2 separate regions of the Homo sapiens genome follow, and region 1 is linked to region 2. The links come from fine-mapping of genetic effects on gene expression. A gene starts in region 2. The other region holds a variant in brackets. All regions are shown on one strand. Distances are between the middles of the regions. Region 1 overlaps SHTN1 (shootin 1). Region 2 holds the start of SHTN1 (shootin 1).

The links.
Region 1: its variant is fine-mapped to the expression of SHTN1 in whole blood (TOPMed, PIP above 0.99). The same link has a PIP of 0.9 or more in T cells, blood mononuclear cells, lung and monocytes.

What each region holds. Positions count from the first base shown.
Region 1 is chr10:116,943,642-116,959,381 of GRCh38, reverse strand. It overlaps SHTN1 (shootin 1), which reads left to right. Exons shown (of 17, transcript NM_001127211.3): 5 at 5,172-5,340; 6 at 7,376-7,473; 7 at 10,385-10,466; 8 at 14,364-14,458. Among named protein-coding and RNA genes, the nearest start is that of SHTN1, 54 kb to the left of the region's middle. The variant A/G (reference allele first, on the strand shown) is at 6,438.
Region 2 is chr10:117,001,212-117,016,951 of GRCh38, reverse strand. It overlaps SHTN1 (shootin 1), which reads left to right and starts at 11,765. Exons shown (of 17, transcript NM_001127211.3): 1 at 11,765-11,930. The coding sequence starts at 11,873. RefSeq lists silencers at 11,589-11,668, 11,899-12,008, 11,880-12,174 and an enhancer at 11,989-12,682.

The sequences.
Region 1 (15,740 bases), 58 kb after region 2:
TACATAAATAAATGTAATTTGTATGCATTAACAGTGTGCTTCCTAGAGGTATTTGCTTAATTGTTTGCATAACAACACTACATTAGAATTCATAAGATATTTAATCAGGACCTAACTAAGAATATAAATTTGGGTATGTAACTTCTCTCCTGTTATTCATCTGAAGAATACACAGCAATACACTTTAAAAACACTTTTTAAAAAATGATAACATGGGTATTCTCACATCATTTTTACTCTGCGGCACATTCCTAGAGTTCACTAGTCCGTAATGTTGTGTGAATTCTATTTTCATTTTTGAATTTCTTTCTTTGGAATAAGTAGAGAAAAAGTACATTTGGAGCCTGCTAGCTGCTCTGAATCTTCTAGTGTCTAAGGATATACTCTCTATTTTTTCTTGTTATTAACAAGTATTCCTGTTGTCATAGCACATCCAGAGTGAGGATACTGGCTACCTTTCAGGATTGGCAGAGTTTATGGAAGGCACTGGTTTGTGGGACAGTATATACAGGTTTTGTTCCTGGTTATGTAATTTTGGGCATATGTGATTTTGGACAAGTTAATTTTGTTCTCTGGAGTGTAGTATCTCATCTTAAATGACATGATGGACTAGAGTTAGGACTGGAGTTAATAATTTATTTGCATATGGCCCCTTTTAAAAAATTACTTTATTCTGTCTCCCCTTTTATTTAATAGGTGTTTTTGGGCAAGAGAACTCACCTCTCTGAGCTACAGTTGTCTTGCTCTAAATGCCAGGATGGACCATGGTTGGCTTCATCATAATACCCCAGATCCATTGGCTCTAGATGTGTGGCCCAGGCATGTGCATGTAGAAAAGCTGCCTGGTGACTGTTATATTCATTGCTCGTTACGAACCAGTGTTACCTAATCTCTAAGCTCATTTTTACAATTAAGTCTTAATAATAGGATCCTTACCTAACACTGTTTGTTGCCTGTTCTTTAAAAACCCTTTTTTAAAATGAACATATAGTTTATTTTTGAAGATATAGTATGAACTCATGGGGCCTAGAAAAAAATTTAAAAAATGGATTAAATCAAATACTATAAATGTGCTTGTTTGTTGTGAAAGACTGCTTTGAATGCAAAATGTGGAAACTTCATTATATGTGTGACTTCATTCTGATTTAAGTATCAATTGTCATTTTTGAAAGGAGGCTTTCAAAAATGCTCATTTTTTTTCCTGAGAGCAAAGTTTCTATAAATTCTTATTTTTCTAAATTTTTGCCATCAAATTAATGACAAATGGAATGTTTAATTCTGATGATGCAGCTTGACCTCGTAATTTTCTTTTTTTTCTTTTTGAAATGGAGTCCTGCTCTGTTGTCCAGGCTGGAGTGCCGTGATGCCATCTTGGCTCACTGCAACCTCCACCTCCCAGATTCAAGCAATTCTCCTGCCTCAGTCTCCCGAGTAGCTGGGATTACAGGCATGTGCCACCACACCCAGTTAATTTCTGTGTTTTTAGTAGAGACAGTGTTTCACTGTGTTGACCAGGCTGGTCTCAAACTCCTGACCTCAGGTGACCTGCCCGCCTTAGCCTCCCAAAGTGCTGGGATTACAGGCGTGAGCCACTGCGCCCAGTTCCTCATATTTTCTTAGAAGCAAGTATGGATACTTTGCTTTGCTAAAATGTGTAGATTAAACTGATAAATGTGGACCAGTTATTTAAGTCATATGATCCAAAGCCATTAAACTTGCTTGTTTTGTACCTTTAAATAGCCACTAAACTGGACAATATAAAAACCCTATTTACATTTGAATATAATAGTAGGTTCTGTTACTGTAGGGTTATAAAAGATATATTTTTGGCTGGGCACGGTGGCTCACGCCTGTAATCCCAGCACTTTGGGAGGCTGAGGTGGGCAGATCACCTGAGGTCAGGAGATTGAGACCATCCTGGCAAACATGGTGAAACCCCGTCTCTACTAAAAATGCAAAGCTTAGCTGGGCGTGGTGGTGTGTGCCTGTAATCGCAGTTACTCGGGAGGCTGAGGCAGGAGAATCGCTTGAACCAGGGAGTCAGAGGTTGCAGTGAGCTGAAATCACGCAGCTCTACTCCAACCTGGTGACAGAGAGACTCCATCTCAAAAAAAAAAAAAAAAAAGTAAAAAGATATATTTTTGCCTTAGACATAGAGGGGTTCCAAACAACAAGTAGCATGCAATTAACCTATAGCTTGATGAATAGCTACAATGAAATTACTTAGCCAAAATTTGTGAATTCAGAATTCTCAAAAATGTTCAAATAGTATGCACATAAGACCTCATGTCTAGGCCGGGTGTGGTGGCTCACTCCTGTAATCCCAGTGCTTTGGAAGGACAAGGTGGGAGGGTCACTTGAGCTCAGGAGTTTGAGACTTTGAGGCTGTGGTGAGCTATGATCATACCACTGCACTCTAACCTGGGTGACAGAGCAAGAACCCATCTCCAAAAAAACAAAACAAAAAAAACCCTCATATATATAAATCTTACATTTCTTCTTTCAAAATGCGAAAATGGGGTTTCAGAGAAGGATTATGAAATTTTCTGATTGGCTTTTTTTTCTTGAGCTGGTGACTTTGTTAAGTAGAGTAATTGTATTGCAGACAAACTGGTGGATTTTGGTGCCTGGTTTGATAGGGGCATTAAACCCTTTTGAGGGCAGAACTGTTAGCTATGATGTTGCTAAGGTATTATTGTAGTGGTTGTCTAAGAAGTAATATATTAAGCACTAGATGACAGAAACTAGTAGTTTCTTGAGTATCCTGGAGGAAGGAGAAAATGCCTAAATGAATACTTTGAAGAAAACTAGCTGATAAATGATTTCCAAAGGATAATTAGACACAAACTAAACCTCTTCTTACTATGAATAACTAACACTGAAGTTTTACTGTGTGGCAGTTACTATATTAAATACTTTATATATAATGTCTCATTTAGTCATCATATTGTGGGATACAGACTATCTTAATTCTTAGTTTACTGATGAGAAAACTGAAACATAAGGATTAGGTTAGTTGTAGAGGCAGAGATGGAATTTTATTGCAGAGCTGGGTTGTATACTAAAGCAATGCGTTTCTTTACATCAATGATTCTTAGTGTTGATGTACATTAGAATCACCTGGGAAACTGAAAAAGGGCTATGCTGGGCTTCACTGCCAGAGATTTGGGTATGGCATAGCGCCTAAGCATTGAGGTTTTTAAAAAGCTCTCCAGAGATTCTGATGGCCAGAGTTGAGAACCATTAGTTTAAATATTAGGATACAGAACCAGAAATTAAGTCTTAAATGTCTTCACTTTTTCCTTAAATTGATGTTTTCTTCTGACATTCCTAAAAGATGGGATAGTTTGAGAATTGACAAGTGAGGGTCCTTGAGCTTCGTGTGCCATGCTGTAGCATTCATGGTTTAAAGAACCCACAACAGTTTTTATCTGAATTTTCCAACTTAAGGAAGAGGTGTTGGGAAATGATGGGCCTCATCTTTTATCTTGATCTCCTAATGTAATGTGTGCAGACAGAAGCTAGAGTTGGAGACTGGGACTGAGGATAAAGGGTTGTGTCTGATTTCCTGAATAGAGCTTGCCAGTCTTCCAGGAAGAATCCATGGAAGAGTTCATAACCATTTCTTAGAGATTCTTCCTGATTCTCCAAAGAGGTCAGACAAACCTCTCGTGCTCCAGACCATGCCACTTTAGGTTCCATATTATTGGGGTAGAAATCAGATCTCCCAGATTAAAGTGGGCTGGGCTTTCTCTATGAGAAACCCTGAGGAACCCTAATTATGATCACAAATGAAAGAGCAAAGTCAGACCAGTGCTATGCTAAATATCTTATTCTAGTGTCAGGTTTACAGTGAGGAAAGGTAGTTATCTTTCCAATGAACTATGTTCATTTGTTTCCAATATCAATTATTAAATTCAGAGCATGTCTTCCTGGTCAAGGGCTCTAGTAAAGGAAATGTATTTGCATTTCTATAACTTACATTTTATAGTAGGGAAAATAATCTACTGATTACTTTGATGTGCGCAAATTAAGGAAAACTGTTTATTTTTTAGTCTTGGGAAGAGAAAATATGAGCAAAACCATATTGTACTTCTGTGGACATTGGAACATCCTTAGTCTTTGTGTGTGCTTTGTCCTAAATTTTCTTGTACATAAACACATTAGCTAAAGAAGGTGATAATAGTTGAATAACTGAAGTTAAAAAACCAACTCATTTCCCTGTCCGGGAATAAAAAATACATTAACAAAGTAGGATTCCTTTTTTTTTTTTTTTTTTTTGCTGTGAAGTAGAACTCTTTTAATAGAGATAGTAGAAACAACATCTTGAACTAGTTTAAACAAGAAAAGAAAATGATGTGGGATCTGTTAGAAATATCAGAGACTTCCATAGAATCTCTGAGACAGGAGCAGTTTAGGAATGGACTGGAGTCTGGGGCTTGAGTCTGGTGGGAAACCCTTTCTCTGTTGCTTTTCTCTTCCTTTCTCTACACATCAGCTTCAGTTTTAGCTTTTCTAAAAACTACCTTCCTCTTTTCCTTGATCCTATAGTGGAATGTGGTTACCAGCAGCTCCTGTCCAGGCACATGGAAAGAAACTCATTGCTCTGTTCCAGCCTCCAAATTTCTAGCGAGGGGATCTGACTGGTCACACTTGGGTCATGTGTTTAATCCCTGGACTAATTCGCTGTGGCCAAAGGGATGGGGTGTGCTTGGGAGAGCATGGCACTCCCATTGAAATCATGTGGAACAATGGAAAGTGGTAATGTCCAGAAAAGAGAGATGTTAGGCAAACAGACATTTAAAAGGTGTTCTCAGCACCACAGCACGCAGAAGATTTGCTTGAAATAAAGTGCCTTTTTTAAGACTATTAATGACTATAAATCAGAATTTTATTTAATCTGTACTGGTGTTTTATCTTAGTTCCTTATATTTCTCATCAGTTACAACTAGCATTTCCACTTGCTGCTGGCTGTAATCCAGACATCAGATCTTGGTTAAAGAAATAAATTTAATATAAAACCTTATTTAATGAATCCACTAATTGTTATGTCCTGCTGTGAGTGTTGATGAATATGTAAGACAAAAATATACTTAATTTGTCTATTGTTTAAAAATCCAAGATACTCATTTGGCTGCTTTTAAAATAACTGTTTTTATATTTTGTCTTAGCTAAATAAAGAAAATAAAACGTTGAAAAGAATCAGCATGTTGTACATGGCCAAGCTGGGACCAGATGTAATAACTGAAGAGATAAACATTGATGATGAAGATTCGACTACAGACACAGACGGTGCCGCCGAGACTTGTGTCTCAGTACAGTGTCAGAAGCAAATTAAAGGTAGAACTCTTTGCTTAATTATTGAGCATATTTTTTACCCCGTTATGATAGTGCTTCTGAACCCTGACTGCACATCAGAATCATGTGGGAAGCTTTCAAAATACTGATGCCTAGGCAGGGCGTGGTGGCTCACGCCTGTAATCCTAGCACTTTGGGAGGCCAAGGCGGGTGGATCACCTGAGGTCAGGAGTTGGAGACCAACTTGGCCAACCTGGTGAAACCCGGTCTCTACTAAAAAATACAAAAATTAGCTGGGCGTGGTGGCAGGTGCCTGTAATCCCAGCTACTTGGGAGGCTGAGGCGGGAGAATCACTTGAACCCAGGAGGCAGAGGTTGCAGTGAGCCGAGATTGCGCCGTTGCACTCCAGCCTGAGCGACAGAGCGAGACTCTGTCTCAAAAAAAAAAAAAAAAAAAAAACAAAACACAAAACTGATGCCTGGGTCCTACCCTATCCAAAATTTTGCTACACCATAGGCCAATTAAATCAGAATTTTGGATGGGGTAGGACCTAGGCATCAGTATTTTGAAAGCTTCCCACATCATTTATTTATATCTCCAAATCACCATAGGGTATATAACAATTGTGCTTTATGAGTTACTTTCTTGTTTGGAATTAAGCACTTTTGAAAGTGTCTCAATGGAAGCAGCCAGTTATACTATAACCTTAAGGATATGTACTATATGTCAAGATATTTTTGTTAAATGAAAGAAACAATGAATAAAAATATATTTAGCGACACCCCTTTTTGTTGGTTAACAAGTAGTGTTGTAAGGCAAGATCATATGATACATCTACTGAATGCACATTCATTTTACTCATACACATGTTTATTTAAAGATGTAGGAAAGCAGTTCTGGCTCAGTAACTATTGGAACATTTTAATTTAGTACACAGGTCAAAAGCAATATTCATTTATTTGTTTGGTAGATAAAATTTCAACTGGAAGTATAAAGAAGAAAGGATGTTACAGACACCATCTTTACCTACTCTTCAACCCCTCAAGCTAACACAAAATAGAATTCATGTTGGTAGGGAGGGAGAGGAAGTTTAAAGGAGTTCCCTTTGCTCATTATTCTCCTTTCTGTTCGAGCTTGA[A/G]CAATATGGTTTCATGTTCTTCTTTCTGGATTAGCCAGCAAATGGAGAAAGTGATTCAGAAATAAGTCTCTGAGAACTTCTCCAAGCTGAGTTTATGTAAAAAGTTTGATTTAATTTACAAATAACCACATAACATATTCTTTATTGCACTTGGAAAACAGTAAGAAATTAAAGGCAGTTAAAACCTAAGTGACAAAACAGTAGGCCAGAATATGAATTTGAGTAGTCTGTGCTAATCTATGTGTATTTTCAAACATTTGAGTGACAGAAGTAACTTTAACACCAGAAGCTTTTGCGCTTACAGTTGATAATACTCTCATTCTAGTGACACACTTTTCATTGAATCCTAATAATAAAACTATGAAATAAATTTAAAAACAAAACACCCATGACTCTAGAGAGAAAATTACTAGAATTAACCCTTCTTTCAAATAGTTATATTTTGAATCAGTTCAAATAATGTCTAAGGACTATAAATTGGCAGCAAGTCAGGATCTTTTACTTCTAATCAAAATATCCAAATTATTAACATCCCAATTGTTTATATTTTATTGTGATAACAGCCCATGGCATTATGAAATAAAAAAGAAATTAGTACTACACCTTAATTTGTTTTGCTGAAAACTTAAAAAATTTTACTTCCAAAATGCTAGATAGTTTTCTAGAATGTGGTTTTGATAGAATGCAAAGAAAACATGATCTGGTACATTTAATGTAGTGAGGTTGCCTGATATAAAATTGTTAATATCCATGGCTATTTTGGGGAGGGCCACGCAAATGAGATTCTCATTGTCCTTTGGTTCTTCATTTCTTTTTAATTGTTAAATAATCTTGACCATAAGCTGCACATGGACTGGCATTTTCAATTCTTTTGACCAGATTGATTTCTTATTTTAAAAATAAGTTTATTTATATATTTTTTTTCTTTAAAAATGCAGAACTTCGAGATCAAATTGTATCTGTTCAGGAGGAAAAGAAGATTTTAGCCATTGAGCTGGAAAATCTCAAGAGCAAACTCGTAGAAGTAATTGAAGAAGTATGTATCTCAGGCCTGAAAGGCAAGGGCTTTAGCATTTTCAAGGTGTTTGGGGATTTGCTAAGTTAAGAACTTAATATTATAAGCCAATTTCTAACATGAGAACCATGTACCAATTTTAATCTTCTCTCCTCAATTTCAGACATAAAAAAAGGTAGAGGAAATAAGATGATGAAGATTCATGTACCCACTAGCTAGCTTAATAAATAAAATTCTGAAATAGCATGGACATGTTTCCTGTTGTTCCCCCAGTTTTTGCTATGTAAGGCAAATTTGTAAGAATAGTAGCTACTATTTCAAGTCATATATTTTATTGCTGCTGGTAGAGAAAGAAGAGCATGTTTTGCTTTTCCGGTGAATGACTGGTTCAATTGGGAAGGACTGTCCCTCTGTGCATCTCCAACACAGGCATTTATGATAGGTGGTAGGATGGGTTCAAGTGGTTGTTTACAGAATCTTTCTTTTCTGGTGTTTTGTTTTGTTTGAGACAAGACCTAACTCTGTCACACTCAGGCTGGAGTGCAGTGGCATGATCACAGCTCACTGCCGCCTCAACCTCCCAGGCTCAAATGATCCTCCTGCCTCAGCCTCCCAAATAGCTGAGAGTACAGGCATGCGTCACCACGCCTGCCTGATTTTTAAAAATTTTTATAGAGATGTGGGTTCCTGTATTTCCCAGGCTTACCTTGAACTCCTGGACTTGAATGATCTTCCCACCTTGGCCTCCCAAAGTGCTGGGACCACCAATGCAAGCCGCTGCCCTGGCCTCTTTTTCCTTTTGAACTGTCTTTCAGAACAAGACCCTCACAATTGCCTTTTATTTGCACGAGGCTTCAAGGATTTGCCTTCACAGTCTTGATTCTGGATTTAATTTGTATCAGTGGTTCTTAGATTCTGTAGCCCAGCACTTCCCAACTGATGTGCCAACTGCAGCTTGATAAAGTGACTTATGAGCATGCCAACGTATTGATCCTGTCAGTGAGCAGCCTCATCCAGTTACCTCAGTTTGCACACACATATTGTCATTTTCTTGGAGGCCATGATGTAAAAAAGGTTGGAAAGCAGTGTCTGCCAACTTCCCAGCCTGAGCTCCTTTTATTATTGTGGCAAAACATTGTAACGAATGGGAAGAAGGAAGATGATATTTTGGAAAGGACCTTACCGTTGGACAATGTGTACCAGTTACTAATTTAAACCAAAACCAAAAATAAAGCCTACACTAAAAGAACCAGTTAATAGATTATCTGGAGGTGCTGATGGATTCAGAGCCACTTTCAGGACCATTATCTTTGTTTCTTAGTGTGCTCTGTTCCTCAGTTGTGATTATTTACTGATGATTCTCTCGCTTCCCACTTAGAGGTATTATTGGAAGACAATTCAACAATTATTTTTATTATGGCTATTTCAGACATCTGAGAAGGCATAATGAACAAAATAATGGGGCTGAGTTCAGTGGCTCACGCCTGTAATCCTAGCACTTTGGGAGGCCGAGGCAGGAGGATCACTTGAGCCCAGGAGTTGGAGATCAGCAAGACCTCCTAGCAAGACCTCGTCTCTCAAAAAAATTTTTAAAAATATTAGCCAGGCATGGTGGCATGTGCCTGTAGTCCCAGCTACTCAGAGGGCTGAGGTGGGAGGATTGCTTGAACCCAGGAGTTCCAGGCTGCAATGAGCTATGATCGTATTACCACCCTCCAGCCTGAGTGACAGACTGAGACCCTGTCTCTAAAAAAATTATTTTTAATGAACATCCATATACCTGCTACCCAACTTAATTCACAGAATATTAGCATGGTGATGAAAGCCCTGGTGTAACTCTTTCTGGTTGCATACTCCTTGCTCCCTGCCCAGTTTCCCTAAACAACTGTTATTCTGAACTTGGTGTTTATCATGTCAGTGCATATATTTACATGTTCACTACAATACATAGTATTTTGAGTGTTTTTAAATATTATAAACATGCCTGCTTTCTAAATTCAATATATTTGAGATTTATCTTCTACCTTGATATATGTAGCTTTACTTTATGTTCTTTTTTTTTAAAAAAACTTTTCTATAGTATTCTCTTTCGTTGATAGACATCAAAAGTTACTTCAGAAATTTAAATTTTTGTGGGAGTATTTATATGTGTTTTATTTAAGCCAAGAGTCATCAGAGTTCAAAGTCTTATTTTAAAAGTTCATGTTCATCTTACTTAAGTCAAAAATAATCAGCATTTTTATTTTATTGTATTTTATTTAAATTATTATACTTTAAGTTCTAGGGCACATGTGCACAATGTGCAGGTTTGTTACATATGTATACATGTGCCATGTTGGTGTGCTGCACCCATTAACTTGTCATTTACATTAGGTATATCTCCTAATGCTAATCAACATTTAAAATGAATACCAAAATTGAGTATCGGATCTTGACTAAATGATTCTTGTATTTTCTGGGTGATCTTTAGTTGGATTTTTGCATTAAAAATATGAATCATGGCTGGGTATGGTGGCTCACGCCTGTAATCCCAGCACTTCGGGAGGCTGAAGCAGGAGGATTGCTTGAGCCCAGGAGTTCGAGACCAGCCTCGGCAACATAGGAGACCCCATCTCTATATTCTTTGTTTTTTTTTAATTAAAAAAATATGTATCATATACATTGGATGGCTAGCATACTGTTATGTTTAGGTGCCAGTGCCAACTGGAATATATAAATAAGTTCTGTACCAGGTATACATCCTAACTTAAATAGCTATCCTTGAAGCTTTAAAGAAGAGCTTTAATAAAAAGTCCTAACACATTGAAACCAATTTCTGCTTTAAATTGTAACTTCATGTTGAAAGTTGAACAGCAATTGAGTATCACACATTGCCATATGTCCTGTTTTACAATTTTTGGTGTTTTCTCCCCTCAAAATTTCACATTTTTAGGTAAATAAAGTTAAACAAGAAAAGACTGTTTTAAATTCAGAAGTTCTTGAACAGAGAAAAGTCTTAGAAAAATGCAATAGAGGTAAGTCTGTCCAGTCTTTTTTTCTCAAATACGTATGCGGTGTGTTCTGTTTGCATATATTGTGTGTCATTTTACACCTGTGCCTAAATATGACTGTAAATAAAATCTTCTCCTATATTGTGATTTTCTAGCATTGTGTCTCTCCCATTTCCATTGTTTTATTACCCAACTTAGAGTCTGGGGACATCTAAAAGTGATTTCACTTGAGGAACAAGGAACCCACTCATTTTGAAACTTCAAACCGAAATACTATTTCTGTCTTACATATATCCAGGGATCATGGCCTTTTTAGCTCTCCCCTCAGCATTTATATGTTTGGTAGGTTATTTAGTAAATCTCAATCCAGAAGAGGTTAGGCTGTCTACATAAAACATGTAACATTATGTGATGAAATTTTAAATTAAGAGGATGTGGAAAAAGGGATAAAGGAAAGTAAGAGTTAGATTGGTATACAAAGTGCATACTTGTTCTGAGGTCTTGCACATTTCCTGCCTGTGTGTTTGAAATCTGGTTCTGAGCTGTCTGACAGTCAGTGCAATAAGAGATTGATGATCATTTAAATGAATCACATGAAAATGAACCTAATGATCAGGAAAAGCAGACCTGCTCTCCTGGTGAGAGGGAAGTGTCTCCAGTGGCTATATCCAGAGAAAACTTTGTGTACTTTGGGCAACAGTGACTTTATCCATCTAGTTATAAAACACAGCATCAGCTCTCATCGGGGCTGTTTCATGTATCTCCCAGTTTAAGACAAGGAAGTGATGCCAAAGTGTAGTTCTGCAAAAATAATTCTGGAAGTGGTAAGAAGAACTTAATATACTTTCTGTTCTCTCTTTTTCCCTCAGTCACTCTCTTTCCTTGTTTAGAAGCTGCAACACTAACAGGAAACCTTTGCGACCCAGGGCCTTCCCTATTGTTATTGGTGGTAGCTGTCAATCTTTTTGTGATTCATCAACTGGGAATTTTTTTTGTAAATAAAGGACCTTGTAGTTAAATGTGGGCAATATGCTGGATTGTAACATTTCTCCAAGTCTTTCTGTATTTAAAGATAGAAATGGTGTAGAATTTTCAGTCTTGATTCACTGTGCTAGGAAAAGGGTTCTGCAAGGATTAATCATGTAGATCTTGCCTTCAGAGAGTCCCCTGTCTAGGAAGAGAGAAAAATTATATAAATAAATACCTGACTAGGACCAACCTGATTTCTTTCAGATTCCAAGTCAGAAGGGCCAGGACACGTGAAAATTCCCTTTTTATTATAGTGTTCTGGACATAGAAAAGAGAGTCAATTATCTTGCCTGGGCTTCAGATCGTCATAGTGTTCTTTGTTTTCTTCATGAAATTTCTTGTTTAAATAGGCTTGAAAATCATTTAGCTCTCAGGGACCTATAATTCACACCAAAAAATCACCACTCTTATTGCTTTACTTATTAGTCTTTCATCTGAAGAGGCTGTAGATTGAGTACAGAGTTTGAAATTCTATGTCATTACGCAGCAAACCAGTCCTTAAGTCAGTTAGGATTGAAGTGCCCTGGTGGAGCAGTGTGTGAAGGCAGCTGTTAAGAGAGCCTTTTGAAAGATTTTGTTGGTATGACTCAGCTCAGGGTGGAGGTGACTCACCAGAAGTGGATGGACAGTGTGCTGTCTGCCCAGCTTGTGCCTAATATCTAATGGTATCGTCACTCCCTCTGTCCTGTCATTATCACTATTTAACAAAATAGGCCACTGAATGTTGAAAATAGCAAAGAATTTATATTACTTTTATTTGACAGGACCTTTTGAAGCTTTCGGTCTTGCAGTAACTCCTTGGTACAAAGCTCTGATTCTTTGGTTCTGAATGCATCTAAGGCTGTTTCTCTCCTTTGTAAATATGGAGAACACTTAAAAATAACTTATATGTCCAGGCGCGGTGGCTCACACCTGTAATCCCAGCACTTTGGGAGGCTGAGGTGGGCGGATTACTTGAGATCAGGAGTTTGAGACCAGCCTGGCCAACATGGTAAAACCTCGTCTCTACTGAAATACAAAAATTAGCCAGATATGGTGGCACGCACCTGCCTGTAATCCCAGCTACTCAGGAGGCTGAGGCAGGAGAATCACTTGAACCTAGGAGGCGGAGGTTGCAGTGAACCAAGATTGCACCACTGCCTTCCAGCCTGGGCGACAGACATAGTGAGACTCCATCTCTCAAAAAATAAATAAATAAATAAATAAAACATATATATATATTATATATATAAATCATTTTATATATTTATATATAAATCATTTTATATATTTATATATAAATCATTTTATATATTTATATATAAATCATTTTATATATTTATATATAAATCATTTTATATATTTATATATAAATCATTTTATATATTTATATATAAATCATTTTATATATTTATATATAAATCATTTTATATATTTATATATAAAATATTTACATTTTATACATATGTATATACATATACATAATTTATACATTTATTTACATTTAATATTATATATAATACATATATTTTTATACATAAAAATGTATATATTCAGGTAGTATACTTTTTTTGGTGGAAAATTTAGATTCATGTAAGGAAAGAAAAAAATCTCAACCTTTACAATCCAGAGATAAGCACTAGTACCATTTTAGTGTATATTCTTCCAATCTTAAAAAAAACTCTCTCTACATATATACATATTAAATGTTTTGTTAAATATGTTTATATATATATTTATATATATATGGAAGACAGAGGAAATACCAGTAAAAGGAATCTCTTTATACTTGCTGGTACCTTACAAACCCATGAACATCCCTCTCTACTCTTACCCCTCCCTTGAATTTTTATTATTTCCTTTCTTTTATTTGTAGTTTTGCCAAATATGTCTATATCTCTAAACAGCATTGTTTAATTTTGCATATTTTTGAACTCTATGTAAATGGAATCATTTTTCCTGTAACCTTCTGCAACTTTTTGTGTTTGTGAGATTCATGCATGTGGACAGGCATAGCTGTGGTATGTTTGTTTTCACTGCTATATACTATTCCATTAGATGACTACACTAAAATTATTTTAAGTAGTATCCTATTGGTAGACTTTGGGCTGTTTCCATATTTCTGCTATTCTGAGTCATGCTGTTATAAAAAATGTTAGACATGTCATCTGGTGCACATGTCCAAGAGTTGCTTTAAGACACATGCCAAATGTCAAATTTTATCTTCAGTTTTTTTTCACTGCATACCAAATTTAATAAAACCATGCTTTAAAATTTTTACCAGTTGCCTCTTGGATGGGTGTAAGAAGTGTTTTTACTCTGCATTTCCTTGATTCCTAATGAAGATGAGCATCTTTCCACATGTTTATTGGCCTTTTGTATATTTTCTATTCTGTGAAATGGCTGTTGATGTGCTTTATCTGTGGCTTTTAAAGAACAAAAATGAATTCACTTTGCACTAATTTTTGCAATCTATTTTTAAAAATACATCACAGATGTCTTTCCATTTACTAAGTATGCTTCTACAATATAATTTTGATGGCAGAATAATATTTCTTGTACTACAATTTACTCATTCTTCTGTGTTAGAGTATTATGTCATTTCACTTTTATCAGCAATGAGGTAGAGAGCATCCTTGCAACCAAATGTCTGTATATGCTCATGTGTTACAATCTTAGCATATGCATTCCTGGAAGTGGGATTATTCAAAGTGTATGAATAGTTTTAGATTTTTGATTCACGTTGCCAAGTTGCTCTCCAAAAAGGTTTTATCAGTTTGTATGCCAACCAGGAATGCATGAGGGTACCTGTATGCTGGTATGAAAAATCTTTTCAACACTGTTTTTCATCCATATTCCTGATTATTTGTGTGACTTATTGTCTGGGTTTTTTTTTTCCTTTATCTTCTTAAGTGTCCATGTTAGCTGTAGAAGAGTATGAGGAGATGCAAGTAAACCTGGAGCTGGAGAAGGACCTTCGAAAGAAAGCAGAGTCATTTGCACAAGAGGTGGGTATCTTGTAAAAATCTTATTTTTTTTCTTGAGACAGAGTCTCGCTCTGTCACCAGGCTGGAGTGCAGTGGCGCAATCTCGGCTCACTGCAACCTCCGACTCCCTGATTCAAGCGATTCTCATGCCTCAGCCCCCCGAGTAGCTGGGATTACAGGCACACGCCACCGTGCCCAGCTAATTTTTGTATTTTTATTAGAGATGGGGTTTCACCATGTTGACCAGGATGGTCTTGATCTCCTTATCTCGTGATCTGCTCGCCTTGGCCTCCCAAAGTGCTCCCAAAGTGAGCCACCGTGCCCAGCCGTAAAAACCTTTTGAATTTTTGTTTTGTAAGGGACCTTGCAGACGACATATCAGACAAATTCTTGAGGTTGAATAAGAACTTACCAGTTTGAATTAAGGATCTGCTGGTTTAGGGAGGCAGATATAGAATAGTATCAAGTTCATTGTCAAAAGATCTGGGCTCAAATTTTGGCCATGTCAGTTACTAGTTGTAGTAGTGTATGACCTCTGAGCAATTCTTCAGCCTCTCAGGGCTTCACTTTTACCATCTGTAAAATGGACAATAATACAGACCTGACCAAGTGGATTTTAATGGCAAAATTTAAAAAAAGTGTTGTATAAACTATAAAATGCTATGTAAGGGAAAGGAATTGCATTTGGAGACAACCCATGACTTGTGATGGAAAGTCCAACTTGGGTACAAGATGCCTGTACATTTCAAATAGGCTTAAAATCTGGGATGTATCTCCATATACCATCTCAGATAACAGTATTATGGTATCAGTATTTCTCTTCAGCCATTGTGCAGTGCTGTCATTATGCCAGGAAGTTCTTCCACTGGCTGTGGAACACTGCCATGTAGTACATTCATTATCTCAGCGTTTCACCAGCCTACTGATCTTCCTCTTATGTTAGAGATCAGCTTTGAATCTCTTGTTCCGGCTTACCTGTTGACATGCAGTCGTTGGGTCTTCCATGGCCCTGGGGCTCATCCAGGGGGATGAGGAGTTCACCAATGGGCTAAACTCAAAAGCTGGTCTGCAATGAGATCTCCATCCTGTGGGTGTAGTTTGAATTTGTGTGCATACTGTAGGTTGAAGGAAGATAGCTCAGGAAATGTAAAACAGTCCTAGGTAGAGGTATCCAAGGCATAGAAGGAAGACAAAGCATGGCATTAGGGGAATGACATTTGAAAATCCAATGATGGTTTTGTGGGGGTCTTTCTGTGCTTGAGCATAGCTGTGCTAGCAGTGAACTCTACCGAAGGTTTAGGCC
Region 2 (15,740 bases):
GGTTTATCACTGTTTCTAGGCCTTCTCAGTGGACAAAACTAGGATATAATTATGTATATGTACATTAACCCATGCATATACATATACCTTTATGTATGTACCTATTTGTATATATTAATATCAACATGAGTTCATACTGATATCTCTCTAGCACCATAGGGTTCATTCTAGCCTTCCTTTCTTATGTTAATTCTGATACAATGTTTGTTTTATTCCAGTGCAACTGATATATTAAGGAATAATTTGGCCAGGTGCGATGGCTCACGCCTGTAATCCCAACACTTTGGGAGGCTGAGGCAGGCAGATCACCTAAGGTCAGGAGTTCAAGATCAGGCTGGCCAGCATAGTAAAACCCTGCCTCTACTAAAAATACAAAAAGTAGCCGGGCGTGGTGGCACACGCCCGTAGTTCCAGCTACTTAGGAGGCTGAGTCTGGAAAATCGCTTGAAGCCAGGAGGCAGAGGTTGCAGACAGCCGAGATTGCACCACTGCACTCCAGTCTAGGTGACAGAGCGAGACTCAGTCTCAAACAAACAAACAAACAAAAGGAATAATTTGAGCATGGTACATATTTCACATTTCTTTTGTATGATTTCATCCTTGAGGAACACTAGATGAACAGAGAAAATTGCATCCATCTAAATCAAGCCAAATTGGGATACATAAAACGCACACACAGACACACATACGCCTCAAACATCTACAACTACCTTAGTTCATCATATGTATTATCCAATAAGGTTATGTTTTGCTATTCTTTTACATTTGTGAACCTGTAAAAGAATGCCATTCTTTTACATTTTTGAACCTGTGTAAGAGTGCTATTTGTTTACATTTGTGAATCTGTATAAGAATGCTATTCTTTCACATTTGTGAAGCAGTGAGAAATATATATACCTCAAACACATCTAAATGTGTGGTTCAAAAATGCTAAGCAGTGAATGCAAAAAGAAAGCTTTAGGTATTGAGGAGAAACTTGAAATAATGAAGTGTTTATCAAAAAACAAAATAGCATAACATCTTTCAAGCATAAAGGAATCCACATTGAGGACCTTGAAGAACAATACCGTGAAAACAAAAGAAACATCTATGATGGCTTAACTTCAAATGCTATAGAGTCAATAGGAACACAGCCTGAAGAATTAGAAGAAATAGAAAGATTGTTGAGCATTTGAATTGAAAACCAAACAGGAACATTTTTTCCTACAATCAGAAAGAAAGCACTGTATATGAAGACTTTCAAAGAAATTGCCACATCTTGCAGAAGTGGTTCCATTTAGTGTAGATAGTGGCTGGATTTGTGGTTTCAAACATTACTACAGGCCGGGCACGGTGGCTCACGCCTGTAATCCCAGCACTTTGGGAGGCTGAGGCAGGCGAATTACCTGAGGTTGGAAGTTCGAGACCAGCCTGACCAACATGGAGAAATCCCGTCTGTACTAAAAATACAAAATTAGCCAGGCGTGGTGGTGCATGCCTGTAATCCCAGCTACTCAGGAGGCTGAAGCAGGAGAATCGCTTGAACCTGGGAGGCACAGGTTGTGGGGAGCTGAGATCGTGCCATTGCACTCCAGCCTGGGTGACAAGAGCAAAACTCCATCTTAAAACAAACAAACAACAACAAAAACAAAAAACCAAAACAAACAAAAAAAATTACTACAATTTCCAAAGCCTTCAGCTGTCAGCAGAGCCAGAGTCCAGCTGGGAAAGGCAAGTACAGCTGAGAAAGTAGCAAAGAAGTCCAACAGTGACACAGAAGTTAATTAAGAAGAAGGCCATTTATTGGATTGAAATTCTAACTTAGATGAAACAGATATCTGTTACAAATGCCTTCCTTGAAGGACCTGCAAATCAGTCAGGGAAAAAAAAAATGCCTCAGGATTTAAGACTTTGAAAGTACTGTGATGTTTGAATCCAACCACAAAACCAAGGATAATGAGCCACACCCATCCACATGTGCTGTTACAACTTTCCCATTGGATTTCAAATAACCCTTCTTCCATCACTTTGCAGTAACTCAAAAGCTGTAGCCTTTATGATGCCTATGTTCACAAACTTTAGGTGTTTTAAAACTAAAATACCACATTGATTGTAGCATTATGCATTTCTTAATCATTTCTTATATAAAACTATGGTACTATTTTAAAATTAGGTTCCTATTTTTGTTCTAATCTTTCACTGAATAAGTTTTTAAATGTTGTGCTACTAGCTTCATTTTTCCCATGAGACCTATGGTTTTTATTGTACAATTTTGCACAGCATAATAATTTTTAAGAACACATAAGTTGTGTTGTAGCAGAACTGACTGTAACTTCTTTCTCTTATGGTGAGAAACCTGCCTCCCATTATCTACAGTTGATTTACTTATTTATTCAACCCTACCCTACATGTAGAGTAGTTTGAGAATTGCTAACCCATACTCTAGAGAGAGGTAGATTTGCCAGCTAGAAGGGTGCTGATGTATGGTTCCTTTTGTCTTCAGCCTTACGGTGTCCAGTCAAAGTACAGTTATCCAAAGTTTCTTAAGTCAGATCCTTTCCCCCATCCCTTCCCCTTCAGTAAGGTAATGTCATATATTAGTAATATGGTTCGATTTATTTGTCATTTTCTGCATTCTATCCTGGGATTTCCCTATCTTGGCTGACTTGTTATTAAATTTGCATGCAGCAAAGTCCATTTTTGGGATGTATACCTCTTTGGATTTTGACAAGTGCATTGAGTCATCTATCCAACACCCCTGTACCATACAGAATAATTCTATCACCCTAAAAATTCCCTTGTATTCCCCCTTTATATTCAACCCTTCCATTCGTCCTCAACCCCTGGTAGCCATGATCTGTTTCTTATTTTTATAGTTTTGCCTTTTCATGATGTCATATAAATTGAACCATATTGTATATAGCCTTCTGGGTCTGGATTATTAAATTTAACAGAATGCATTCAAGATCTGTATACACTGTATCCACTCAGTAGCTCATTCTTTTAAAATTGATGTATATATTCCATTTTATGGAAAAAAAATATATATATACACACACACATATTTGGAAGATATATATATTTGTTCATTCACCTATTGAGGGACATCTTGGCTTTTTCCAGTTATTGGTGATTATTAATAAAGCTGTTATAAACATTTGTATATGGGTTTTTCTGTGAACATAAGTTTTCCGCTCATTTGGGTAAGCCCCGGGAGTGGAACCACCAAGTTGTATGGCAAATGTATTTCTAATTTTATAAGGAACTGCTAAGTTGTCTTTCAAAGCGGCTGTACCATTTAAAATAGCTACCTGCAATTAAAGAGGGTTACTGTTGCTCTGTGTCTTTCTCAGCATTTGGGATTGTTCCTTTTTTATTTTAGCCATCCTAATAGATACATAGTATTATATCATTGTTGTTTTAACTTGCATTTCACTAGTGACAAATAATGTTGAGCATCTTTTCATGTGCTTATTTTCCATTTAAAAATATTTTTCTGGGCCAGGCATGGTGGCTTATTCCTGTAATCCCAGCACTTTGGGAGGCCGAGGTGGGCAGATCACCTGAGATCAAGAGTTTGAGATCAGCCTGGCCAACATAGTGAAACCCTGTCTCTACTAAAAATACAAAAATTAGGTGGGCGTGGTGGCGGGTGCCTGTAGCCCAGCTACTGGGGAGGCTGAGGCAGGAGAATCACTTGAACCAGGGAGGCAGAGGTTGCAGTGAGCCGAGATGGTACCACTGCACTCCAGCCTGGGACACAGAGCAAGACTCAGTCTCAAAAAATAAATAAATAAATAAACTTCTTTTGGTAAAGTATCTGTTTATATATTTTGCCAATTAATCTTTTTTACTTTTGACTTATTTTAATATTTATTTTTAAAAAAATTTATATAGTTTTTAGAGATGGGGTCTTGTTCTGTTGCCCAAGCTGGAATGCAGTGGTTCACTGCAGCCTTAAACTTCTAGGCTCAAAATCCTCCAGCTCAGCCTTCTGAAGAGCTGAAATTACAGGCACAAGCCACTACATTGGCTCTTATTGTTGGAGTTTTAAGAGTACTTTAAATATTTAGAATACAAAATATTAATATGTGATTTATTTAATGTGTGATACAAAATATTAATATGTGATTTTTAAAATGTGAATTAATATGTAATTTGTAAATATTTTCCCTCATCTATGGCAGGTATTGTTAATCTGTTTCTTTTATCTTTCATAAAATCTAATTTATCAATTCTTTTATTGATTACGCTTTTGGCATCGTATTTAAAAACTAATTGCCAGACTTTAGGTTACACGGTTTTTTCTCTTGTGTCTCATTTTTAAAGTTTTACTGTTTCAGGTTTTACATTTTGGTCTATTATCCATTTTGAGTTAATTTTTCTATGAGGCATGTGTTGCGGCTCCTTTTTATAAAAAAAAGAAAGGATGTCCAGTTGATCTAGCACCAAGTTTTGAAAAGACTTTTTTTTTCCCATTGAATTGGTTTTGTTACTTTGCAGAAAAAAAGTGATTCACTATATTTGTGTGGATCAACTTTTGGGATGGTTAATGCATCTTCCTTTTGCCAATACTACATTGTCTTAATTATTGTAGCTTTATAGTTAGTCTTGGAAATCAGGTAGCGTGAGTCCTCCAACTTTGTTCTTATTCAGAATTGTTTTGGCTATTCTAGTTTTTGTTTTGTTTTGTTTTTTGCCTTTCCATAATACATTTTATGATCAGCTTGGATTTGGATTGGGATTGCATTGGATCTATAGGTTAAATTTGGAAGAATTGACATTTTAGCAATATTGAGGGTTTTTTTTCCTTTTTCTCTTTTTTTTTTTTTTTGAGATGGAGTCTCATTCTGTCGCCCAGGCTGGAATGCAGTGGCGCGATCTCGGCTCACTGCAAGCTCCACCTCCCGGGTTCACGCCATTCTCCTGCCTCAGCCTCCGGAGTAGCTGGGACTACAGGCCCCGCCACCACGCCTGGCTAATTTTTTGTATTTTTATTAGAGACAGGGTTTCACCGTGTTAGCCAGGATTGTCTCGATCTCCTGACTTCGTGATCCGCCCTCCTCGGCCTCCCAAAGTGCTGGGATTACAGGCGTGAGCCACCGCGCCCCGCCTGAGTTTTCTAATTCATGAACATAATATATCTCTCCATTTATTTAGATACTCTTTGATTTTTTTCATCAGCATTTTATACTTTTTGGCATCTAGATCTTTCACATATTTTGCTAGATTTATACCTAAGTGCTTCAGTATTTTTAGTGCTATTGTAAATGTTATTAATTTTTAATGTCAAATTCTAATTGTTCATTGCTGGTGTATGGAATACAGTTGACTTTTGCATTTGTCTAATGACTAATGATGTTGAGCATCTTTTCAAGGGCTTATTGACCTTGTATCCTGTAACCTCACTAAACTCAAGTATTTGTTTTAGAAGCATTTAAAGAAATTCTTTGGTATTTTCCACATAGGAAATTTTGCCATCTATGAATAGAGATGGTACTGGCATAAGGACAGACATATTGACTAATAGAATAAAATAGAGAGCCCCAAAATAAATCCTCATGTATATCACCAGTTGATTTTCAACAAGGGTACCAAGACCACTCAATGGGGAAAGGACAGCCATTTAACAAGTGGTATTGGGAAAAGTAGATATCCACATGCAAAAGACTGAAGTTGGTATGAAGGTAGAAAAGGCCTAACAAAAATTAACTAAAAATGGACCAAAGACCTAAACTTAAGAGCTAAATTCAGCTAAAACTACTGAATTCATCTATTAGCTCTAGTAGCTTTTTCACAGATTATTTGGGATTTTCTCTATATAGCTATATGTCATATGTGAATAGAGATAGCTTTACGTCCTCCTTTCCAACTTGGATGCCTTTTCTTTCTTTTTCTTGTCTAATTGAACTTGCAGCACACTGTTGAATAGCAGTGATGAAAGCACATATTCTTGTCTCGTTCCTAATTTCAGGGGGAAAGCTTTCAGTCTTTCACCATTGACCATGATTATAGCTGTGGCTTCTTTACAGATGCCCTTTATCATGGTGAGGATGTTCCATCTATTACTGGTTTGCTAAGAGTTTTTATGGTGAAACGATGCTGACTTTTGTCAAATGCCTTTTCTGTCTCAATTGAGATGATCACCTGGTTTTTTTCCTATTAATGTGACATATTACATTGATTGATTTTCTTATGTTGAACCACTTTTGCATTCCTGGAATAAGTACTACCTGGTCGTGGTGTATAATCCTTTTAATGTGTTGTTGGATTTGGTTTGTTAGTATTTTGTTGAGGATTTTTGCAACCATATTCATAAGAGAAATTGGTGTGTACATTTCTTTTCTTTGTGATATCCTTATCTGGCTTTGGTATCACAGAAATGCTGGCCTCATAGAATGAGTTAGGAAGTGTTCTCTCCTTTTTTGTGTTTTAGAAAAGTTTGAGAAAGACTGGTGTTAATTCTTTAAATGTTTGATAGAATTCACCAGGAAAGACATCTGGGCCTGAACTTATTTTCATTGAAGGGTGTCTTTCTTTTCTTTTCTTTTCTTTTTTTAATACTTTCTGAATTACTCTACTTATAATAGTTCTGCTGAAATTTTCTTTTTCAGTTAGTTTAGGTGACTTGTGTGTTTCTGGGAATTTGTCCATTTCTTCTAGGTTATTTAATTTGTTGACATATAATTGTTCTTATTATTCTCTTAGAATCCTTTTTATTTCTGAATCATTGGTATTACTGTCCCCATTTTAATATCTGATTTTCATATTTCTTTTTTTTCTTCGTTAATTTAGGGAAAGGATTGTCAATTTTGATACTTTCAAAGAAATAGCTTTTTATTAATTCTATTATTTTTCTATTGTCTTTTATTTTATCTCCACTCTAATCTTCATTATTTTATTCCTTCTGCTAACTTTAGGTTTATTTTGCTTGTCTATTTTCTCAAGGTGTACAGTTACCTTATTGATTTTGTATCTTTCTTTTATAATGTAGTAATTAGAACTATAAATTTCTCTCTGAGCACTGTCTTCACGGTATTCCATAAGTTTTTTTTTTCTTTTCCTTTTTTTTGAGACAGTCTCACTCTGTCGCCCAGGCTGGAGTGCAGTGGCGCGATCTCGGCTCATTGCAAGCTCCGCCTTCCGGGTTCATGCCATTCTCCTGCCTCAGCCTCCCAGTAGCTGGGACTACAGGCGCCCGCCACCACGCCCGGCTAATTTTTTGTATTTTTAGTAGAGACGGGGTTTCACAGTGTTAGCCAGGATGGTCTCAATCTCCTGACCTCGTGATCTGCCCGTCTCGGCCTCCCAAAGTGCTGGGATTACGGGCTTGAGCCACCGTGCCCAGCTTGTATATATGTTTATAGTAATTATATATTCTTACCGAATCAACCCTTTTGTGAATATAGACTTTTGTTTATTGTAACAGTTTTTGACTTAAAGTCTGTTTTGTCTGATATTAATATAACCACCCCAACTCTCTTTTGGTTACTAATTAAATTTTTTCCTACCATTTTGCTTTAAATCTATTGTTGTCTTTGGATCTAAAATAAATATTTTGTAGACATCATATAGTTAGATCATACTTTTTTTTGCATCCTGCCAGTGTTTGCCTTTTGGAGAGTTTAAGCCATCTTCATTTAAAGTTACAGTTAATAAGAAATGACTTATTTCTGCAATTTTGCTATGTATTATCTATATGTCTTATAGCTCTTTTGCTCTTCATTTGCTTCATTATTGCCTTATTTTATACTTAGTTTTTAAAAAAATGTGTATGTTTTTGGTAATCATTTTGACTTCTTTCTCCTTTCCTTTTGTGCATATTTGGTTGATATTTTCTTTTCTTTTCTTTTTTTTGAGACAGAATTTTGCTCTTGTTGCCCAGGCTGGAGTGCAATGGCACGATCTCGGCTCATTGCAACCTCCTCCTCCTGAGTTCAAGTGATTCTCCTGCCTCAGCCTCCTGAGTAGCTGGGATTACAGGCATGTGCCACCACGCCCAGCTTATTTTTTATATTTTTAATAGAGATTGGGTTTCTTCATATTGGTCAGGCTGGTCTCAAACTCCTGACCTCCGGTGATCCACCCGCCCTGGCCTCCCAGAGTACTGGGATTACAGGCGTGAGCCACAGCGCCCGGCCAATTCTATAGTTTTGAGTATATTCAGAGAATTGTACAACCATTACCACAATTAATTTTAGAAAATTTGTATTACCCCAACAATTAACCACACACCTATCAGCAGCCATTCCCTGTTTTCTCCCAGACCTCCCCTACTTTCACCCCACCTCAGTAGATACTCACCAATCAACTTTCTCCCTCTATGGATTTGCCTGTTGTGATCATTTTATACAAGTGCAATCATACAATATCTGGTCTTTTCTGATCAAGTTTTCACTGAGTATAATGTTTTCAAATTTCATCTGTGTTGTACCATATATCAGTACTTTATTTTTATTACCAAATAATATTCCAATATTGCCATTTTCATATGATAATTAACATTACATTAAATAGCTCTGTACATAAGCCTTTTAGGATAGATTCCCTGATATAGAATTAGTGGATCAAAGACAGTGAACCTTCTTCTCCTCATTGTATTTCAATCTTATTTATCTGTATACCTCAAAAGATGACATATGTGATTTTACTTTAATTACCTGAAAAATTAAATAAAGATTAAAGAGAAACTCCTTCTTGACCACTGCACTTTCACACTCCAACCCCCACACCTTGGTCCTGTTCCCCTACTTTCTATCCCTAGAGACAGCCATTATCCTGAGTTTGGCACATATTCTTCCAATTCATTTTTTAAAAGTCTGTCCTTTATCTCTATGTATATATTTGTATATATATATGTAAACACACACATTTTTAAGGGTTTTAAATGACCTGTTATTTGGAGGTCAATAGTAACTCCAACGTGATGCCTGCAACATAAATCACTATGTATATTATTATTATTGAGATGGAGTCTCGCTCTGTCACCCAGGCTGGAGTGCAGTGGCATGATCTCGGCTCACTGCAACCTTCGCCTCTCGGGTTCAAGTGATTCTCCTGCCTCAGCCTCCCGAGTAGCTGGGACTACAGGTGCCCGCCACCACACCCAGCTTTTTTTATTTTTAGTAGAGACAGGGTTTCACCGTGTTAGCCAGGATGGTCTCAATCTCCTGACCTCGTGATCTGCCCGCCTCGGCCTCCCATAGCCATCACTCTGTATATTATTAAACGGAACAAAAACTAATTTATCACTTCTATCCTTTCCATCAATATTCATATCATATAAATAAACAATAGTGTAATGGGAGAACTGAATCCCAATAAGGACTCTAATAGCCCTCCTAATAATTCATACCATGTCCTCAAGTGAATGCCATATTGTATTTCAGGAGTTTTTTTTTTTTTTTTTTTTTTTTTTGAGATGGAGTCTCACTCTGTCACCCAGGCTGCAGTGCAGTGGCAGAATCTCAGCTCAGGAGCCTTTTCTAATTTTAAGGAGGATAAATGGGATTAATTGCAAGAGGCCGCAGATTTAGTATGGAACCAAAAGTTTGATTATAGATTTGATAATTAACTCATTCTTAAACTCCAGAAATACTATCTAACTACTGTATAATTGGAGTAGACAAATCAGCCATTAAAAAAAAATGGAACTTTGTGAACTAAGCCAAATATTTAATGGGCACTCTGCTTGTATTTGGTAGAGTGAGAGAGAATGAGTCAGGATGACTCATCAGGTTTAACAGGTTTCCCAACTGCTGGACAAAAGCTAAATGTCCATTATTTTTCATTAAAATCTCCCGGATTTTTTTATTATTATCTCCTGGGGATCTTCATGGCAGCTATCTGCAACTATCTTGAATTATCTTACGCATACCTAGGGAAAGGGCTGAATAATACAATCCCATATCAAAATTATTTTTAAACTTTAAACATTTTAATACACTGTATTAAAAAATACTATGCTGCCCTTTTAGATCATTCTACCCCTAAATCACTCATGCTAAAGTACTATATTGCCATTTTAGAGAAAGAGAAAGCAGTGCTACCATTTTTTTTTTCAAAATTTTAGTTAGCATGTAGTGAGTATCAGAAAGACACTAGTTACAGGATTTACCCATATCTCAACCTCACTCTACAACTATCATGGAGAAATGAACACAAGAAATGGAGCTGGGCACTTCCATAAAACAGCAATTGAGGAATGAGCAGCACTGTGCTGTTGCTGTACCCAAACTAAGAGCTTAGAGGTAGTGAGAAAAACCAAGCTGTGCAATAAGTCTAATTCAGTTTGGACTTATCTCCCATGCTTAATGATCAGTGTAAAAGAACTGCAACCTTCAGCTTATAGTCAGCAACCACAACCCCTTTCTCACAGACCTGTAATTTTTTTTTTTTTTTTTTTTTGAGACGGAGTCTCACTCTGTCACCCAGGCTGGAGTGCAGTGGCGCGATCTCGGCTCACTGCAAGCTCCGCCTCCCGGGTTCACGCCATTCTCCTGCCTCAGCTTCCCGAGTAGGTGGGACTACAGGCGCCTGCCACCACGCCCGGCTAATTTTTTGTATTTTTAGTAGAGACGGGGTTTCACCGTGTTAGCCAGGATGGTCTCGATCTCCTGACCTCGTGATCTGCCCGCCTTGGCCTCCCAAAGTGCTGGGATTACAGGCGTGAGCCACTGTGCCCGGCCACAGACCTGTAATCTTTATTAAAAACAAAAAAACAAAAAAAAAACAAAAAAAAACTGCATTATAAATTCTGGACTTGGTGTTTTGTTAATCTTCCTCTATTAAATCCTTACAACTCTTCCTTGAGAGTAGGTATCACTATTCTTCCTATTCTTCAGATGAAGTTCAAAGATGCAGGAGACTTGACCAAAGGTTAGCTCGCAACTAGGGGTTGGGGAGAAGCACCTTTGAAACAATGCAGACCTGCCACTTCTCTCCTGGGCATGGTCTAACACAGACATGAGTTCAAATAGTTCAGAGGGCAGTGAACTGGGACAAACGCTTGGCTTAACTGCCAGCCTCTGCTGCCCGGGGGCTGCGTGACCTTCGGCATTCGGACTGCAGTGGCACCCTCTCTAAAGGGAAGGTCATCCCGCCACCAACCAGATGATCTGCAAGGGCCCTCCAGGCCCCACCATCCACGTGCAGCAGGGTCCACGTTCTGACCACCTGGCAAACCTGGTGCGATGGGGGAAAGCTAGCCAGGGCCCTCCTTCACTCACGGCATGGTCATTTAAGTAGCTGGGCGGCCTGATTCGATCCTTGTCTCCTCTTCAAGGTGCAAAATGTACCACCCTGGGCCCGCCCCTGTGGGCAGCTAGGTTTTGCAACCGCGCCCCCAGAGTCTACTGCGGGAAAACTAGGGAAGAAGCCCAGGCGTTCATGGCTCATTGCGTCCCGCTCTACCTCTGTGGTTCTTTGGGAGCGACCCCCGGGAAGCGTCCAAAGTGGAGTTCCCACACACGCTGCGAACCCACAGCCGGTTTTCTCTGAACTCGCGTCCCTGAGTCCGGGAGGTGGAGGCGGAGAAAAGGGTGCGGAGCGACCCCACGCAGGGCCGCCCCCCCTCCCACCAGCGCGTCCTGCCGCGCCGGCAGCCACAGGCTGGCATAGCGGCTGCCGACCCGCCCTCGTTCCTCCACCCCCTGAACGGGACTGCTGGGCCCGCCCCGCCCCGCCTGCAGGTGAAGCGGCCGCAGCCGCCGAGTAGGTGCGTGGGGATGATCTCACTCGCGCGCTCCGCGCCAGGAGGAGGAGGAGCGGGAGCGGATCCAACTTCCGGGTAGTGGAGCCGCAAGCCACCGGCATCTTGCTTTTTCTTCCCCCTCCTCCTGTGTGCCCCGCGCCGCTCCCTCTTTCCCTTTTATTCCCGGCCCCACCCGCCAAAATGAACAGCTCGGACGAAGAGAAGCAGCTGCAGCTCATTACCAGTCTGAAGGAGCAAGGTAGGCAGCACGCGGGCGCCAGGTGTGGGCAGCCGCGGCCCGTGGGCGGGGACGGCCCCAGGGCGCTGGGGCCAGGGCAGTTGGAAGCCGGGCGGGAGACGTGGCGGCCGCCGTGGTCACCGCAGTAGCTCCGTCACCCGCAGAGAAGCGTCCTCCGTGGCCGGCGCGCCTGGGAAAGCTCTGGACCGAGGATAACGCGGAGTGTCGGGGCTAGTCAGGCCCCGCAGCTCGAGACCCGCTGCCCGCTGGTTGCGTTTGCTGGCGATCGGGGGCTGGGGGAAGGGACGAGGATTCAGTGCGGACGAGGTTGCACAGTGCCACCTTCCTTGCCGGAGAAGCGGGTGGGGCAGGATATTTTGGCTGCTTTGGGCGGCTCAGCTAGCTTGGCCCCACCCTTACACATTTGTTGGCGCTGGGTGGCCTGTAGGGCTGTTTCACACCCTTCCCAGCTTTTCGTTTGGATTCGGTCTAGTTCCTCTTTCCTTGCCCAGCTGGGATTTTCAGGCCATAATTTTTTTTTTAATCACTTCTCAATTTTAGCAGTTTATTAGTCAGCAAGGTCAACATCCTGCCAGTGTTGAGCTTTCAGAATTAACAGGGTTGACGCTGGGCGAAGGAGAGCCAGGCCATGCGCACGCATTTCTGTACTGCTTGGTAACTGGGGATTATCCTTTAATAAAGACCTGCTTCAGTCAATCATTTTTTTCATCAGTTACCACACTTCTGAACCAAACCAGATCAACAACCAAATGCTAACCTATCACATTTAAACACTTATCATTATTACCCTGACCAAAGGGTGGTCTGCGAATGTGGGTCAAGACAGGGAGGAACCAGCCGGGTGCGGTGGCTCACGCCTGTAATCTCAGCAATTTGGGAGGCCGAGGCAGGTGGATCACCTAAGGTCAGGAGTTCGAGACCAGCCTAACCAACATGGAGAACCCCTATCTCTACTAAAAATACAAAATTAGCCGGGCGTGGTGGTGCATGCCTGTAATCCCAGCTACCCGGGAGGCTGAGGCAGGAGAATCGCCAGGAGGCGGAGGTTGCGGTGAGCCAAGATGGCGCCGTTGCACTCCAGCCTGGGCAACAAGAACGAAACTCCATCTCCAAAAAAAAATAATAATAATAAATAATAAAGAAATAAAGGGAGGAACCATACAGATTTAAAGGAAGTAAAAATGTGTAGGAACATGTACTTTTCTGAATGTCTTGCTGACAAGACCATGTAATGGAAGGATCCCTGCTCTGTGGCAAAACCTGGTATTTAGTTGCAGCTCTTTCACTTCTCTTGGCCCAGCTCACCTGCTCTGTGAACTTGGAGGAGTCTCTTTCCTTCCGTGGATCTTCTGGTCAATCAAGGCCGACCTGACTAAAGGCGAGGGTGAAACTGGAGGACTTTCTGAGGTCCTGTCCAGTACTCTTACCTGTTGTTGCGTAAAACCACAGACACCGTTGGGAAGTGCTCCCGGATTCCTCTGAAGCCACACTCTGGCAAACAAATTTCAACATTACTGTTTACTGTGTGACCCTGGGGAAATTATTTAACCTCTGAAATGGACATAACACATTCTTCTGTGATATCCAGCATCTAGAAAGTGCTGGATAAATGTTAGTCTCTTTGGCCTTCCCAGCACCTTTACCTGGCATCCTAGATTAGCCTGAGGTCATAAAGTCACAAGCATCAGTGAATTTAGTGGGTGGACAGAATGCCTTTATCTGAAGTTTCTCAAGTGTTTTAGCGAGGGACTGGATTCTACTGACTGGTATTTTATATTTAATACACCTTCGCCCAACCCAAAACATTAAAACTTGATTCATATTCTAGATTTGTGGAGCTTTCATTATAGGTAATATCTGTCAGTGGATATCAGATCTTCTTATGGTTGGTCAGTTTTCGAATAATGATAAACATAAAAAAATTTTCCCTTTCATTTCTTGTATAATCAAGGGTCGATTAACAATGTAGATAATCTGCAAATTGCTTATATTTGATTTCGGAACACATTCTCCATTCCTATGTTGGGTTTGAGGCCTGACAAAAAGGATTTCTATATTTGTGGCTCTTTCTCCTATTGCATTGTATTGGAAAATAAACAAATCCTTGGCATTGGTATTTTTAGAGGATATATTTCCTTGATTAAGTGCATATGAAAGGTAATAGAACAGTTAGATATTCAAAGTTGTGTTTCTTAAAAGGTACACTTTTGGGGATAGTGAGTCTAGTTACAAAGGTGTTGGGATTTTTTCAGCCCACAGTGTGATTTTTATACATTTCAAAACCAGGTAGTTTGCTTGTCATTGGATCACAGACTGTGGAAACAATTTACTTCAAAAGTGTTCAGTTACTGTTTGACCTGTAGAACTAATTGGGAAGCTAGGGATTTGGAAGAACAGGTAACTGGGTCTTTGAGCATTTAACAGTACATACTATGATCAATTTTGTAAGCTGATGGTTGCATGGTTTATTTTTGAAAATAGTAATTTTTACTACCTGTTACTACCTTTTTACTCACAATGTTAATATTCTGAGTGATAATTCCACTACCCCTATTTAGTGTGAGCAAGAAGAACCACTATTTATCAAATATGTTATTTTCCCTTAATAATGCTGAGTAAACATATTTATTCATTCCTTCAACAAATACTTATCAAGTACCACCATATGTCAGGTCCATGTGGTAGGCACTAGGGGTGTAAATAGTGAACTACACAGTCCTTGTCACCAAATTAATTTTCTAGAAGAGAAGACAGGTACTATTCAAGTTATCATATGAATAAATGTACAATTACTTTTTTATTCTAGGATAGATTCTTAGAAGAAATGGAATTGTTGGATTAGAGGGCACGGACATTTACTTTTGCTAGACATTGCAAAAGTGCCCTCCAAAATGATTATACCAGTTCAGATATCCTTCAGCAGTACCCATTTCCCCACACATTGGTCAACTCTGGCTAATAGCAATCTTTATTCATTTGATGGCCTGACAAGTTTTTGAATTTTTGCCAATCTAATGGGCAGAATGTTACCTTTTAAGATTTGCATTGCTCTGGTTATTAGTGATGTTTGAAATCTTTTTACATGGCCATTGGCCATTTAGGTTTCATCATATGGGTCCTTCCTTAGTGATTTTTTTTTAAACTGATACATGAGACTTGTACATATTTATAGAAGACATGGGGTATTTTGTTACATGCTTAGAATGCATAATGATCAAGTCAGGGTATTTGGGATATCCATTACCTCCAGTATTTATCATTTCAATGAGTTGAGAACATTTCAAGTCCTCTCTTCTATCTCTTTTGAAATATATAATACATTGTTGTTAACTGTAGTCACCCTACTTTGCTATCAAAATGTTAAAACTTACTCCTTGTATCTAACTATGTTTGAACCCATTAAACAATCTCTCTTCATTTTGCCCTGCCTTAGTAAGTTTTAAGTCTAAAACTTGAACCAGTTCCCCAGGAGAGTGTTCAGAAAGGAGATTCCTGTCTACTCTAAACCACAAAGCTGACAGCAGCCTTCCCTAACGTGAAGCCTTTAGTGGTGTGGTGAATAAGGTTGCTTTTGACAAAAGTTGTGAAATGTAATGACGGAGTCTGTCATAATATGAACAATCTCTAATTTATACTTACCATTCCCTAAGCTCTATGTCTTATAAATCACACCCACTTCTGAATTACTTCAAAACATTTTATGTTCCCTCCTAGTGAATGGTATAATTAGCTATATTATGTCTTTCCAGAAAGTTATATTATGTCCCTTTAAAAAAAATTAGCCAGTGTGTGATTGCTTATGTTCAAGCA